Linked DNA regions of Homo sapiens: all the other regions are reported to be linked to region 1. The links are microRNA targets in miRTarBase. Many come from high-throughput screens and were not tested one by one. Region 1 holds a microRNA gene; each other region holds the end of a gene's coding sequence.

Region 1 (3,151 bases):
GAGCCAGACAGAAGTCCATGCTCAAAATCCAGACCCCATCAGATGTTGTTTGAAATTCAGAGACTGCAGAGACTGCTGGCACATTCTTGGAAAAGCTCTGACCTTGGGAAGAAAACTTACTTCCATCTCTAAGAAAAAATACTAGATAATGATTTTTTTAAGCCCATGCTGGGAGTTGGTGGCAGGATGAGAATGCACATGGTAACAGGACAACAGTGGGTACTGGCCTGGAGCAGGCTCCTACGTGGCCTCCCCAGAGTCCAGGCTTTATTCTCAGCATTCTCTATGGTCCAGCCTCTCTCCACTTAAACTACACTTCAGATAATGGTGTTTGCTACAACTCTTTACAATCAATTATTTTGTCATTGTCTTTATTTAAACATGTACACACACACACAACTAGAGGGAATGCACTGGAGAATGACACACAACGCATTCCAAGGAAATAACAAAATTTTTTCTGGCTTGCGTGCCCAACCCACAAACTTGAAGATCACCAGGGCTTTATTTAGTTTGGTTCCCATTATCATTATGTGAGGCATGTTAATAACTGGACTCCAGAGCTTTGGTTTTAGATACTTGTTCCTCACCTCTCTCATCTAGAGTTTTAAAAAATAGTTTTTATTATAAATACATATTTTTTGCTTTTCCTGCCCACCTAACTTTTAAAAAATCCAAAAATCCCATCTACTCTCATTAGAGTTGACCACAACAAAACTGCATGAGAAAAAAAAAAAAAGAATCCTTTGGATCACATGGGTGTCACACCATTGTTGGCCATGGGAGCTCAGCCTAATAAGGAGAAGATATGACAACAGAGAGAGCCCAGGGTCTTGGGCCCTTTGCACAGAACATGGTGTCCTTACTGGCAGTTTGTTTTAGGCTTAACATATTAATTTATTGCTAAAACAGGCCGGGTACAGCGGCTCACGCCTGTTACCCCAGCACTTTGGGAGGCCAGGCGGGTGGATCACTTGAGGTCAGGAGTTTGAGACCAGCCTGACCAACATGGTGAAACCTCATCTCTACTAAAAATACAAAATTAGCTGGCGTGGTGGCGCATTCTTCTAATCCCAGCTACTCAGGAGGCTGAGGCAGGAGAATTGCTTGTACCCGGGAGGCGGAGGTGGCAGTGAACTGAGATCGCACCACTACACTCCAGCCTGGGTGACAGGGTGAGTCTCTGTCTCGAAAACAAAACAAAACAAAAAAACTGATGTAGTAAAATGTGCTTTACAGTAATTACACCACAAGAATAAACTACTAGCTTAGAATTATTTGTTGTATTTCACTAATGCCAAAGACATAGATTTTTATATGTAATACAAATCCCTTATTTTATAGGTAAGATAAATATGGCCCAGAGGGATAATCAGAACTACCAAATGTCACATAGCCACTTAGTAACAGAAGAGGCACAACAGCAAGTTCTCCTAGTTACAGCTCTACACCTCATGACCTCCATGGAGCCATCCAACCTGACCACCGGGTTATCTACAAGGGAATTTTTTAAATTAAAAAAAAATTCCCTTGTAGATAATCTAGTGATCGGGTTAAAAATTCCTTTAAAAAAATCTTGCAGCAGAATTAATGAGGGTAAAGGTACATGGATTCTTTTCTTTTGACTCCTTCCATTTTTATACCTGAAGTTACTCCATGAGAGGAGGAACTCAGTCTGCATTTACTCATAACTGAACTCTCAACATTTAAGACATTTCACTAAATTAGTAATAAATTGATGGCAGCATAGAAATTTGTTTCAAAATTACTCAATAAAAATACATACTGCATTTTTCTCCAGATATTCCCCCCTAAATTATTGGCATAGTCATTAGCCCTTTATAGGAGTTTTTGAATTTGGCACCTTGACATTTGGATGGGCTAATACTCTGTTGCAGGAGGCTGTCCTGTGCACTACAGAATGTTTAGTAGCATCGCTGGCCTCTGCCCTATACATGCCAGTAGCATACCTTCTGGTTCCTCCCCATCCCACTGTCCAGTTTTAACAACGAAAAATGTCTCCAGTTGTCAAATATTCCTGGGTCAGGGTTGGGGTGGGTTGTGGAGCACAATCGCCCCTGGTTGAGAACTCCTGATCTAAGGTGACAGCATATCCACCCACCCTCGACCGTCCAACCATGTGATTCATGGGACATGGAAGCTTGATGAATCAACCAACTGAAAATTAAAAGATACACATAGAAAGCACTCAGGAGGCTGGGTGTGGTGGCTCATGCCTGTAATCCCAACACTTTGAGAGGCTGAGGTGGGAAGAACACTTGAGCTCAGGACTTCAAGACCCACCTGGGTAATATAGTGAGACCCTGTCTCTACAAAACATTAAAAATTAACCAGGCATAGTGGTAGCATCTACAATCCCAGCTACTTGGGAGGCTGAGAGGGGAGGATGACTTGAGCCCAGGAGGTTGAGGCTGCCATGAGTGTCATGATTGTGCCACTGCACTCCAGCCTGGGAGACAGAGTGAGACCCTGTCTCAAATAAACAAAGAAAAAAAAAGAAAGCACTAGCACTCAGGAAATATAAGTATGAATTGAATTAGATATACTCTAATCTGCTTATTTCAAACATCATCACTTTTGAAGACATTATGCTAAGTGAAATAAGCTGGTCACAAAAGGTCAAATATTGTATGATTCCACTTACTTGAAATACTTAGAGGAGTCAAATTCACAGACAAAGTATAATGTCGGCTGCCAGGGGCCAGGGAGAGGAGGAACGTGCAGTTATTATAGAATGAGTGCAGAGTTTCAGTTTGGGAACATGAAAAGAATTACAGAAGTGGGTGGTGGTGATGGCTGCACAACAATGTGAATGTACTTAACACTACTAAGCTGGACACTTGAAAACAGTGAAAATGATAAATTTTATGTTACATGCTTTGACCACAAGGCCTAAATTAGACCAAATTATCACAAGGCCTAATTCCACAAAGCACGAAGCAGGCCCAGCGCGGCGGCTCACACCTGTAATCCCAGCACTTTGGGAGACCGAGGAGGGCCGATCACCTGAGGTAAGGAGTTTGAAACCAGTCTGGCCAATATGGTAAAAACCCGTCGCTACTAAAAATACAAAAATTAGCTGGGCATGGTGGCAGGCGCCTGTAGTCCCAGCTACTTGGGAAGCTGAGGC
Region 2 (3,000 bases), not on the chromosome of region 1:
TGTGGGAAAGCCTTTACCCAGAAGTCACACCGCACAGAACATCAGAGAACACACACAGGAGAGAGACCCTTTGTCTGCAGTGAATGCGGGAAATCGTTTGGTGAGAAGTCATACCTCAATGTACATCGAAAAATGCACACAGGAGAAAGACCGTATCGTTGCAGAGAATGTGGAAAATCCTTCAGCCAGAAGTCATGCCTCAATAAACATTGGAGAACTCACACAGGAGAGAAGCCCTATGGGTGCAATGAATGTGGGAAAGCTTTCTACCAGAAGCCAAACCTCAGCAGACATCAGAAAATTCATGCTCGGAAGAATGCCTACAGGAATGAAAACTTAATAATTGTGGGAAATACTTGAGCAAAATATCTGGTTTCATGGTATGTAGGGAATTTTTTTTTTTTTTTTTTGAGTTGGAATCTCACTTTGTCACCCAGGCTGGAGTGCAGTGGCGCGATCTCGGCTTACTGCAAGCTCTGCCTCCCGGGTTCACGCCATTCTCCTGCCTCAGCCTCCCGAGTAGCTGGGACTACAGGTGCCCACCACCATGCCCGGCTAATTTTTTTTTTGTATTTTTAGTAGAGACGGGGTTTCACCGTGTTAGCCAGGATGGTCTCGATCTCCTGACCTTGTGATCTGCCCGCCTTGTCCTCCCAAAGTGCTGGGATTACAGGCGTGAGCCACCGCGCCTGGCCGGTATGTAGGGAATTTATCCTTAGGAGAAATCTTATCATTTTAATGAATTTGAACAGTGTGTTTTTATTTTATTTATTTATTTATTTTGAGTTGTATTCTCTGTTTCCCAGGCTGGAGTGCAATGGCACTATCTCGGCTCACTGTAACCTCAGCCTCCCAGGTTCAAGCAGTTCTCCTGCCTCAGCCTCCCAAGTAGCTGGGATTACAGGCACCTGCCACCACGCCTGGCTAATTTTTGTATTTTTAGTAGAGATGGGGTTTCACCATGTTGGTCAGGCTGGTCTCTTTGGCTAGGCTGGTCTCGAACTCCTGACCTCGTGATACCCCCCAACCCCCCGCCCTTGGCCTCCCAAAGTGTTGGGATTACAGGCATGAGCCAACGCGCCCAACCGACAGTGTTGTATCATAATGGAAATCATGATCTAATTGTGATACAAACTTTTCTAGAAAATACTTTCTCAAACATAAGCATGGACACCCTGGCATGTAAACGTTTAAAAATGTATTAAATGGAATAACAGCAGAATACAAAATATCTGTGAAGAGACTTAAAGGCATACTCTGGTATATTCCACAGTGAGCCATACAATCAGCATTATTTGTATTTTGGAGTTGTAAATGTGAAATTAACATAAAATGTGAATATCAGACACATGTCACACAACATATAGAATGCCATTCAGAAAACTTTTCCACTTTAAATATCATCATTGTCTTTTGATGTCTTAACAATACAAAAAAATAACAACAACATGGCCCACTATTGTTAAAAGAACTTTATTATACCAGCTACATTTTTCCACCTTTTTGTAATACATGTAAATGGCTATAGAGGTTGTTACTGTCCTCTGCAGAAATAATAAAGCAGTGTTTTTAAATGTATTTGGATAATTTGGCCAAAAATTTTACTAAAATGTAGTTATTTATATTAAAAATGCAAGCTAAGGAATAGTTTAAGAACCTGATACTGGGTAAATGAAACACTGTAAACTATTTGACAAAATGTAGTGTCACCCTGGTGTACAGTACACTGTTCATATTTTCTTAGTCTTGCTTAAAATATCTTGTAGCAAATTAGTAGCATTGCTACACTATTCTAGATACACTATTCTATATACAGGTTGTATAACTCAGAAATGTTTCATGCGTAGACCACTGAAGGAGAATTTCTTTTCTCTCTATCCCTCTGCAAATTAATTCAAGAATATTCATTTTTTTCATATAAATTTCCTTGCAAGTGTCCTAGACACTAAATCCCAAGGTTTTAATTATTTCAATGTTTGGAAAGAAGTCTGCTTCCCTGAGTTGCTATGTCATCCATATTAGAAAATAAATGGCCATGTGGAATCTACATTTTTCAAGATTTCCCTCCATGTAAGACTGCCTGATCCAGAATGAGAAAGGAGACATAACCACAGATATCAATATGATTTTTTAAGTGATAAAAAGATACCTCATACAACTCTAATCAACATATTTTTTAAAAAGAGGAGGTGGATGCTTTTCTAATAAACTTAAGTTATGAAAACTGCAATAAGAAGTAGAAAACTTGGTAGGATAGTTAACATTGAAAAACTCAAAAAAGCTATTAAAGATCTATAATGGGAAAATGCTCCAGGCTCAGAAGAGTTCATGCTTAGTTCTATCTTTTAAAGAAAGAGTAATACCAGTGTTATTTATTATATGGATGTAATACAATCCATGAACTGTACTCATTTATTTTATTAAGTCAGAATAAATTTTAACACCAAAATCAAATACAGATAGTTGAAAAAAGAAAACTTCTGCTGGGTGCGGTGGCTCACGCCTGTAATCCCAACACTTTGGGAGGCCGAGGCAGGTGGATCATGAGGTCAGAAGTTCGAGATGGTGAAACCCCATCTCTACTAAAAATACAAAAATTAGCCGGGTGTGGTGGCACACACCTGTAGTCCCAGCTACTTGGGAGGTTGAGGCATGAGGCAGGAGAATTGCTTGTACCCAGGAGGTAGAGGTTGCGGTGAGCCAAGATCGTGCCATCCAGCCTGGGTGACAAGAGCGAAACTCCGTCAAAAAAAAAAAAAAAAAAAGAAAACTTCAGACCAGTCTTACTCATGAATATAGAAACAAAAATTATAGTTAAAATACTAGCAAATAGAATTCAGCCATATACCCAAAGAGTGACATAGTAAGAGTCATCCCAAGAATGCCAAACCAGTTCAGTTAATAGGAAATGCATCAATCAAATTAACAGTTTAAAGGAGAAGAATCATATGAACTCTCAACAGATACTGAGAAGGCATTTCATAGAATGTGTTAATTTAC
Region 3 (3,000 bases), not on the chromosome of region 1:
TTGCCTGCTGCTGATCTACTGCTGTGTGGCTCAGCTCCTAACAGGCCATGGGCCAGTGCCAGTCCACAGCCCAGGGGTTGAGGGCTCCTGTTGTAGCACCTGAGTTGACCAACAGTTAATGTGTGGGTGGGGATTGGGATCGGGCCCATGCTCTTTTAGTTGTCTGACTGTGCTTTCAGTATTATTTTTGTAGACGTTGGCCCCATCAGGTATGGTGAGAATAAGCTCTCTAGGCCTGTATGATGCCTTACACCCCTCCTTTTCTTTTCCAGATACTTCTAGGACCTAACACAGGGCTCTCAGGAGGAATGCCAGGGGCTCTACCCTCACTTCCTGGAAAGATCTAGATTGTTATTGCTGTTTGAGCTGTCTCAGTGGGATAAGTTTGAAATTCAAGTGTTTGAACTGCTGATAATTTGGATTTTTTTTTTTTTTTAACTTTGGCACATTGATCTATCTAAACCTGGTGGGGAGAATTATCCCCACATTGTCTCATGGAAAGACTCAACTTGCAACTGTGCCCTCCACACTATCCTTACTTCTGTCTCCACTCTGATACCAGAGTGCAGCCATGCAGATGGTTATTCCAGCTCTGGTCACCCGACTCCTTTCACCAAATTGCTCCTAACTGGAAGATCTCACTTTCCCCTTGTGGGGTAGGAACCGATGCCAGTGGGAGGGATGTGCCCCTGACCATTAACGACTGTTTTTTTTTTTTTTTTTTAAAGAATGGAGTTGTTGGGGCAGGACATGCACACAATGTGAAACAGACAAAATGCATTACACCTGTAGTGTAAAGTGGCCACTATGAATCCCTATGTATGAGAGGAGGGAGGCAGGCTGCAGCTTCAGCCACAGAATGGGGACTATGGAAGACAGCAGGAGCTCATTTCCTCTGCACATTTTGGCTGTTAGACCTGTGTGTGTGTTTAAAAAAAGAGAAGTCAGTGCTCACTTTTTGTATTTAAATATTAAAAATGATTCCAACTGAAAGTGTCATCCTAAGTACCTTGAAATGAGACCACGTCAGAGACATGTACTGCCCCTCACATTTTCTCACCTAAACCAGCAGCACCTCCATCTTAACAGCCATAGGCCCAAATTGTTTCCAAGTGAAAATTCATTTTTAGCCAAGTACTTCATAGCAATCTTTGCCCTGAATTTAGGCAGTCACTTTGAGATCCATCAGCCTAAAACAAAGGATTGGGTCTATGTACTTCTTTAGTCTATAATGACACTGTGTAATTATAAAGTATTTGTAGGGAATAACATAGTACTGATTTCTGGGGAATAGGGGAGGGGGACAGAATTTTTTTTTTTTTTTTTTTGCCTGAGATCAGGTCTCACTGGAGTACAGTGGTGTCGTTTGGGTTCACTGCAACCTCTTACCTCCCCTCCAACTTGGCCTCCTGGGTAGCTAAGACTACAGGTACACGCCACCGTGCCCAGCTAGTTTCTTTTATTTTTGGTAGAGTCAGGGTTTCGCCTTGTTGCCCCAGATAGTCTTGAACTCCTGAGTTCTAGCCATCCACCCGCCTCTGGCCCCTCAAAGTGCTGGGATTATAGGCGTCACCCACCACGCCCAGCCAGAGTAAGCCTTTTGTGTGTTTATCAGATCAACCAACACTACAATCTAGGTGGTACTGTTCCCATTTTACAGAAGAGGAAACAGCCACAGAAAGGTAATTGCTCAAGGCTGCAGAGTTAAGTGCTAGACCTGGATTCAAATCCAGGCAGTCCAGCTACAGAACACTGCTGCTGTGCGCTCGGGATGGTGGGGCTGGGCCCAGGCCCGCTGGGTATACATGATCTTTCACTTGTTAACTAGGGAAAAACACTAGTCACCAGTGTGGTACAAACTTGTACTTAGGTGGATTCTTCAAATTGTCAAGATTAGTTTTTATAAATTAAAATAGACTGAAAAATGTCTTAGAGACATCTTTTGAACCAAATCCCATTTCAGTGACTATTTTGTCTGGATTTCTCAGGTGAAAGAGTTAATCAAAGAATGATATGTCTCTAAAAGATGACTTACGCTGGCAATGAACTCCTTTTAAAACAGCGTCATACTAAAGTTTATTTTTCTTTACACAATTATAGAATTCAGGCAGACAAGGAGACATATATGGAGTTTTCCATTTTTAATATTTGGTTAAACAAAATACATCTTTTGTAAACAAACGCAGCACAAGGCCAACAACAAAAAGGAATAAAAGCAAGAAAAACAAAAAGCCTAGGGTTGCCCGTTATTGGGCATCAGGGTCAGGCCTGTTCACTTCCTTAAAGGAAGTGGGGCTTTTTGCCCTTGGGCATCAGCATGGGTCCCTGTTCCTAAGCACCAGAATTGGATATGAACAGAGAAACCAGCCCTGAAATGTTTAAGCGTCTTTGCATATCCCATTGGCTCATGGACTCCAAGTGCATGGGGACTCTTTCAAGTGCCATTTGCACAGGCCCAAGTGGATTTGTGGAGAGGAGTTTCCTCCTCTACCCAAGAAATGGCTTACTATCTGACAGTGCCAGTGGCCCCAAGGTCCTGCTTGTGACAATCAGCAAGGTTGGCTGTAATGTCTGGCTGGTGGTGGTTGGAATGTCATTGTGCAGGGCAGGAAAAGAGCTCCCTGTGGTGCCAAGCAGGTCTGGTGTAGAAAATGGTGCAGAAGAGACTGCGGCCAGTTGCTGAGAAGATATAACGCAGTAGCCGCTTGGTGGCCTGTTACTCAGCATTAAAAAAACGGCCTTGTTGGATTGAAGATACATGTGCAGAAAAAGTGCTGGTGTCAACATGCACTCCAGTCACAGGGGGGAGAAAGCCCAGCTTCACCCCGTTAAGCTTGCTCAGGATCAACATGCAAGCCCCAGGCTGGCTTTGCTGCTGGAGAGAAGTCTGGCCAGTGGGACAGCTCTCAGACCTGCCACGACCATTGATCTGAGGGCCAGCAGGTCACCCCTGCCTGCCACCTGCCTTGAGGCAACCACATCCACTTTGGAGACACGCAT
Region 4 (3,000 bases), not on the chromosome of region 1:
GGATTACAGGCATGCGCCATGACACCCAGCTAATTTTTTTTTTTTTTTTTTGTATTTTTAGTAGAGACGGAGTTTTGCCATGTTGGCCAGGCTGGTCTTGAACTTCTGACCTCAGGTGATCCACCCACCTCGGCCTCCCAAAGTGCTAGGATTACAGGCGTGAGCCGCTGCGCCCGGCCTAACATCAAGTTTTTAAATTGCAGATATATTTTTTTAAAAAATCTTCTGCAACACTGTACTTATCAGCCAAAAGAAGCTTTTGTCCCCTTTACCAATTTTCACCTTGGGTTCTATTTAGTCTGCAGCTAACACAGCCACATTTACTCTTTAGCATCTGCCTGGTATATTTTTGTTCATCTCTTTATAATCTATGACAGCGTTTTAGATTTTGCAAATAGCACACAGTGGGATTTCATGTTTTTACTCAAGCCTAAGGATTCCAGAATTTAACCTGTTCATGTTTATTATGAGTAAAAAACTTGATCTTGCTATATTGTGGATTTTTTATTTCTATGTAGCTTGTTTCTTTTTCTTTCCCGTCTTGTTGGACCTAAAAATTCCATTCCCTCTTTCCAGGTAGTTTTGTAGCTATTAAAGTTGTTGACATACATTTGCTTCCCTCTCTTCTCATGGCAAATGGCAATTCTGCACTTCCCTGGTCTGCTGAACTCAGGCATAACCATGTGACTTTCTTTGGCCAAAGAAATGTGAACAGAAGTGACATATGTCACATCTAGACAGAAGCTTTAAGTCACAATATATGCTGCATCATACTGTCTTTCCTTGGACACTGCAACCAGCAATGTTCCAAATAGTGACGTTCCACCAGCCTCGCTTCCAGATTGAGGTTGATGTTGAATAGGGGCCTCTAGCCAATCTGCCAAAGGCAAACTGCATGGGCACAAATAAACCTATGTTGTTGAAAGTAATTAAAATTTGGGAGCTGTTAATGCAACATCACCTAACCTATCCTTACTAACATACCCTTAACTTTATATATATTTTAATATATTTTTTCAATCAATACCTAGAATCAAACACTACCTGTATCCTTCCCATGAATAAGACAATATCTAGGACAAGCTTTCACTTTCTGTGTCCTGCCATGCCTCCATTCATGTTCAAACCTAGAACTTTGGTTGGACTTTGTTTTCATATGTCATTAGTATTTATTTAGACTTTTTCTGACTACAGGCACCTCTGGTGATTATAAAAGGGGATTTGCAGGTCACAAAGCTGAAGTAGTTTGTCTCATATCTTTATCAATATCTTTATCAGTTTATTTGATCTAAACATCTTTCATGGGGCTGGGCACAGTGGCTCAGGTCTGTAGTCTCAGCACTTTGGGAGGCCAAGGTGGGAGGATCATTTGAGGCCAGGAGTTCAAGACCAGCCTAAGAAAGAACCCATCTTGGCCGGATGCAGTGGCTCATGCCTGTAATCCCAGCACTTTGGGAGGCCGAGGTGGGTGAATCACCTGAGGTTAGGAGTTCGAGACCAGCCTGGCCAACATGGTGAAACCCCGTCTTTACTAAAAATACAAAAATTAGCCAGGCATGGTGGTGTGTGCCTGTAATCCCAGTTACTAGGGGGGCTGAGGCAGGAAGATCACTTCACGGTTGCAGTGAGCTGAGATCGAGGAGGTTGCAGTGAGCTGAGATTGTACCACTGCACTCCAGCCTGGGCAATAGAGCGAGACTCCGTCTCAAAAAAAAAAGAAAAAAAGAAAAAAAGAAAAGAAAGAAAGAACCCAACTCTACAATAATTTTTTAAAACTTCGGCATGGTGGTACATTGCAGCTACTTGGGAGGCTGAGGTGGGAAGATAATTTAAGCCCAATGGTTCATGGTTACAATAAGCTGTGATCCCATCACTACACCCCAGCCTGGGTGACATGAGTGAGACCTTGACTCAAAAAAAAAAAACCCAAAAAACAAAACCACACGTTAATGGGTTCATTGTTCATTTTGCTTAGTTACTCTGAGAAAGATTTTTTCTAAGTAATTAAGTTGCTGATGAAACGTCTAAGACCAATTAATACCTTCCATTTCATGAATTTAAGCTTCAAATGAATCCATTCTGCTGTGTAGTCCATCTTCTGAGTGTTTCAGTTTCATAATCAAATTTTTAATTTCCAGAAACTCTAAATATTTTTTTCATGGCATCCTATTCTTTATGAACACAGTATCTTTATGAATTGCTGAAGATTTTGATTCATTAATTTAAAAATTTCATGTTTCTCCTAGTAACTATCTTCTTGAACAGGTTAATTTTAATTTCATGCCTCCTTTTATGTTACTGGTTTTCTTCAAATTTGATGATTCTTGGTTGTCCATATTTATAAATGAGGGCCTAAGATTAAAGTTGGAAGTGTTATTTTTTCATCCAAATGGGAATTCTGGTTCACTTTTAATGAACACAAATGATTACAGGCACTTATATGGTGATTATAAACGGAAGTGGCAGGTCATCATAGTTAGAGAGATCATGTGGGCAGCTTAACTTCAGTTCCTCTTCGGAGCCATTTTGGATAATTCCCTTATTCTCCGATCCCAGCATTTCTTGGGTCAGAGCTCCCACTTCAGATAGCTGCTTTCTTAGCCTGGTGGCAAACTCCAGAATCAGATGCTCCAAAGATGAGTGGAATGGCTTAGCTGTTCCATCCTTTAATTAACTGGTACTTAAATCATCTGCTTCTTATCTTCCAGAAATTTCACTGTTCAAATTTCTGGTTTTCCAACTCTGCTATTATTTTTATTTTAATATTTCTCCAGTCATTTCAATGGGATTCTAGAAGCATAAAAGAATGTGTTCAGTCATCCATGTTAATGTTCCAGCATGTAGTTTATAATCAGAATTTTTCAAAAAACCAATCATCTCCTATCATGCCGATCCTCTGAAAATCAAGTGTTACTGTCTTGAGATTAGAGATTCTGTAAATACCCATTTGAAATTGGACGAACTCATTATTGGATATAGAACTGGATGGGCAAGCAAGAG
Region 5 (3,000 bases), not on the chromosome of region 1:
AGTGTTCCTCAGCTTCTGCCAGGGTGGGGGCTTGAGACTAAGAATGGAGGTATAGGCAGAGGTGAGGGTTTCAGCGTGGGTTTCAAGTCTGTCTCCCTGGTTCTGTGGGTAATTCTCAGGAGGGTGGAGGGAAGGGAGGGTGCAGGGATTGGTTGGGGTTGCCCTGTCCATCGGGCTGTGTCGCTGACATAAAATCCAGATAGAAAAGCTAAGAACTCTACCGGTATTCTACCCCGGAATACCCCGCCTCCGCTGCCAGGAGGGAGAGCTCCCAGATATCCAGGTCAGACTCTCCTCATTCTTGAATTATCTGCACAGTCCCTCCCACGTCCCAGCCTAGAAAAGCTTCTGACTCCTGGGCCTCAAACTGCAATGCACCTTTCAGTGCAATAGGAGCTATCCAATCTCCAGCCGCGTCCATCCGCCCACTCGAGCCCACCTGTTTGCGGACCACAGAGCGGCAGCACATCCCTACACGGGGCTGTCAGGCAAGGTCAACGCGCTAGAGTGCAAGAGCCTTTGCTTTGCGGATTGCCGCAGCGCCGGGTGTGGGCGCAGGTGGGGATAGAGTGCTGGGTTTTGAAAGAGTGACCCGCAAAGCTGAGGGTGCAGAGCAAGACACAGATCTGGGAAGAGCAGAGAAAAAACGCTCCTGCTTCTGAACCCCTCCCACCTCGCATCACCTGACAAGTCTCTCAAGGTCTGGTGTCGGGAAACCCCACCTCTTCAAAGCCCCGCCCTTCGAAACACCAGAAAGTAACCCCCCTGCCCGGCCCTGCTTTCCCCCTACCCCCTGCCAAGCTGCAGTTTTTTTTTTGTTTTTTTTTTTTAACTGGGTGAGGGCTAGAAGGAGCGGTAGAGATTGATTCATTCTAGCCAAACCACCTCTCTTAACAAAAAAAGGAAACTGAACCCCGATTGGCGAAATGTCTTGCTCAAGTCCATAAAGCGAGACCACCGGCTGATCTGGACCCTTAGAATCTACCCACCCTTCTCCACCTCCCCTCCCCAGCTACCTGTTGCCATGGTGATGAGAACAGGCTCCTGCTGAGGCTCTGGCTGTGGTCGCAAGAGGCTGGAGAGGCTGAGGACTGGGCTGGATATGCTGACCATCAGCCAAGCCCCATCCAGGGCCCGCGGGCAGTTCTGCGCGGGGGTCAGGCCGCTGGCCCATTTCGCAGAGGCGGGGAGAGGCACGAAGCGGCTCATCTCGCAGTGTGGTGCGGGGGCGCCCCGGGGATACCGCCTGAAGGCAGCCTGGAGGGCGCCCGCGGGGTCTGAGTGTAGAGAAGGAAGTTGCAGCTGTAGAGTCACCGCCGGGAAAGGGGCTGGAAGGGCAGCGTTCGGGGAACTTCAAATGCACAGACTACCCCGTAGTGAGACTCACTTTACAAAGGGGAAGCTGAGGCCTGAGGTCACTGCCGGATCTAAAGAGGAGGGGGTTTCGGTGGAGGCGACAGAGGTAGGGGGGCGGCGAGTCCCTAGAGACTCACCGTGTACACTGAGATAGAGCTCAGGGTCGAGGTCCGGCCGGGGCGGCGGTTCCCCCGGTCCCTGGCGCAACAGCAGTGCACCGGGTCTCTTGGCCAGGCCCTTTCCGCTCGCATCCTCCACGAACCAACACTCGATCACCGCGGGTCCTGCTGAGACGGCGGTCGCCAGGCCTGGCGTATAGGGACGCGAGTGAGGAGCGGTTTGTATGTCTGGTGACCTGCCCCACTCCCACCCTGGCATCGGCTCCAGTGGGGCCACCTCCCTCCGCTTCCCTCTAGTTCTTGGGCGATGAGTCGCGGGGTTCGCTCACCCAAAGCCACAGCGAGGAGCAGAGACAGGGACTTCATGGCGCTGCGACCTCCTCAGCCATGAAGCCTCCTCTTCCTCCTTTCACTTTCACTTTCCTCCAAAGGGCGGCATGAGGGGCGGTGGAAATCCCCGCTCTGGTTAGGTGAAGGTGCCTGGGGGACCGGTGTTTCCCCACTGGCCAGGCAGGGACCCGGGTAGATCCTCTCCAGTTCTCACCAGGACACCCCAGCCTTACCGCGCCCTCCTGGACTACCCAGCAGCCCCGAGTTCGAGCCCTCCCCAACCCCAGGCCCTCCCCCGCCCCCCAACTCCTGTGTGTGCTCTCCAACATCCACTTGCCCGAAAACCATTACTCCGGCTTCCCCCTATCTGTGCCGCGTCCCCAGCAAACACACGGGTTATCGGGAAGCCAAGTAAATGACCAATAAATATTTTAATCACTGTTAAAAAAAATAAAAACCTTGTACTCCTACGACTTACTCCCTCCTTGTCTCCACCCACTCCTCCATGAGAACCGAGTTGGGAATTTCCACGGGAAGTCGGGGGTGGCGGGGAGAGACAGGGTAGAAATAAAGAGCGCATCCTTGAGAGGGGGTAGGTTCTAGGACAAGGGTGGGGCTCAAAGGCCTTGTCTCCACGACAACACAAACACAGACTTCAGGCACAGACTACAACCACCTGACCCCTGACCCTGTGACTGCAGGATGTTCAACACGCCCCCTCTCCCTCCCTCCATGTGCAATCTACTCTGTGGAGCAGGGGCTTCAGTGTACCCATCAGAGGGAAAGGAAGGGTTTAGTTCTGGAAATACCTTGGGGGGGAGGGGTTGAGTAGTAGAATGGGCGGGCGATGGTGAAACTGTGGTTCCCCTTCCAGAATATATACAAGTCCACAGAGATAAAGGAAGACAGTAAGTGTGGTGGGAGATCACCCGGGGGCCACAGCGCCCTTGCATCGTGCTCCTTATTCCCTTTCCCGAAAGCTACCCCACCCCAGTAGCCTGCCCCTTCAGTTTGCTCCTCCACCTCCACCGAAGCCCATCTCCACCTTGTGGACTCTGGGTGGGGACCAGACACGTCTGCTGGACGGGGGCGTGGCCGCACTCGCTTCGTCGCCGCTGCCCCCGCCCACTCCGGGAGACTCTCTCTTGGACGGCAAGGATGGCCCCGTGGGAGTCCCAGGCCCAGGTACGGCCCC

Evidence for each region. The annotated mature microRNA hsa-miR-3938 reads AAUUCCCUUGUAGAUAACCCGG and lies in region 1 at 1,486-1,507, opposite strand. An mRNA with a match to its seed (bases 2 to 7 or 8) in the 3' UTR can be bound and repressed. Matches are read on the target gene's strand: a 7mer-m8 pairs with bases 2 to 8, a 7mer-A1 pairs with bases 2 to 7 and ends in A, and an 8mer does both.
Region 2: miRTarBase lists ZNF793 as a target of hsa-miR-3938. Seed matches in the 3' UTR shown: 7mer-m8 at 387-393 and 7mer-m8 at 703-709.
Region 3: miRTarBase lists TOMM22 as a target of hsa-miR-3938. Seed matches in the 3' UTR shown: 8mer at 1,261-1,268 and 7mer-A1 at 1,287-1,293.
Region 4: the mRNA of CEP78 is a reported target of hsa-miR-3938. Seed matches in the 3' UTR shown: 7mer-m8 at 2,534-2,540 and 7mer-m8 at 562-568.
Region 5: the mRNA of ZBTB22 is a reported target of hsa-miR-3938. Seed matches in the 3' UTR shown: 8mer at 2,768-2,775.

What each region holds. Positions count from the first base shown.
Region 1 is chr3:55,851,030-55,854,180 of GRCh38, forward strand. It overlaps MIR3938 (microRNA 3938), which reads right to left and starts at 1,565; the gene lies at 1,463-1,565. All of the region lies in intron 14 of ERC2 (ELKS/RAB6-interacting/CAST family member 2), which reads right to left.
Region 2 is chr19:37,537,520-37,540,519 of GRCh38, forward strand. ZNF793 (zinc finger protein 793) reads left to right here. Exons shown (of 8, transcript NM_001013659.3): 8 at 1-3,000. The coding sequence ends at 360. The region is part of intron 1 of LOC124904708; the gene reads right to left. Among named protein-coding and RNA genes, the nearest start is that of ZNF571-AS1, 9.9 kb to the right of the region's middle.
Region 3 is chr22:38,683,495-38,686,494 of GRCh38, forward strand. It overlaps TOMM22 (translocase of outer mitochondrial membrane 22), which reads left to right. Exons shown (of 4, transcript NM_020243.5): 4 at 273-1,927. The coding sequence ends at 347. JOSD1 (Josephin domain containing 1) reads right to left here. Exons shown (of 5, transcript NM_001360236.2): 5 at 2,049-3,000. Among named protein-coding and RNA genes, the nearest start is that of TOMM22, 3.0 kb to the left of the region's middle.
Region 4 is chr9:78,270,631-78,273,630 of GRCh38, reverse strand. CEP78 (centrosomal protein 78) reads right to left here. Exons shown (of 17, transcript NM_001330691.3): 17 at 1-2,790. The coding sequence ends at 2,780. Among named protein-coding and RNA genes, the nearest start is that of PSAT1, 25 kb to the left of the region's middle.
Region 5 is chr6:33,312,201-33,315,200 of GRCh38, forward strand. ZBTB22 (zinc finger and BTB domain containing 22) reads right to left here. Exons shown (of 2, transcript NM_005453.5): 2 at 2,218-3,000. The coding sequence ends at 2,812. It overlaps TAPBP (TAP binding protein), which reads right to left and starts at 1,878. Exons shown (of 8, transcript NM_003190.5): 1 at 1,805-1,878; 2 at 1,494-1,664; 3 at 1,017-1,277. The coding sequence starts at 1,841. RefSeq lists an enhancer at 2,432-3,000.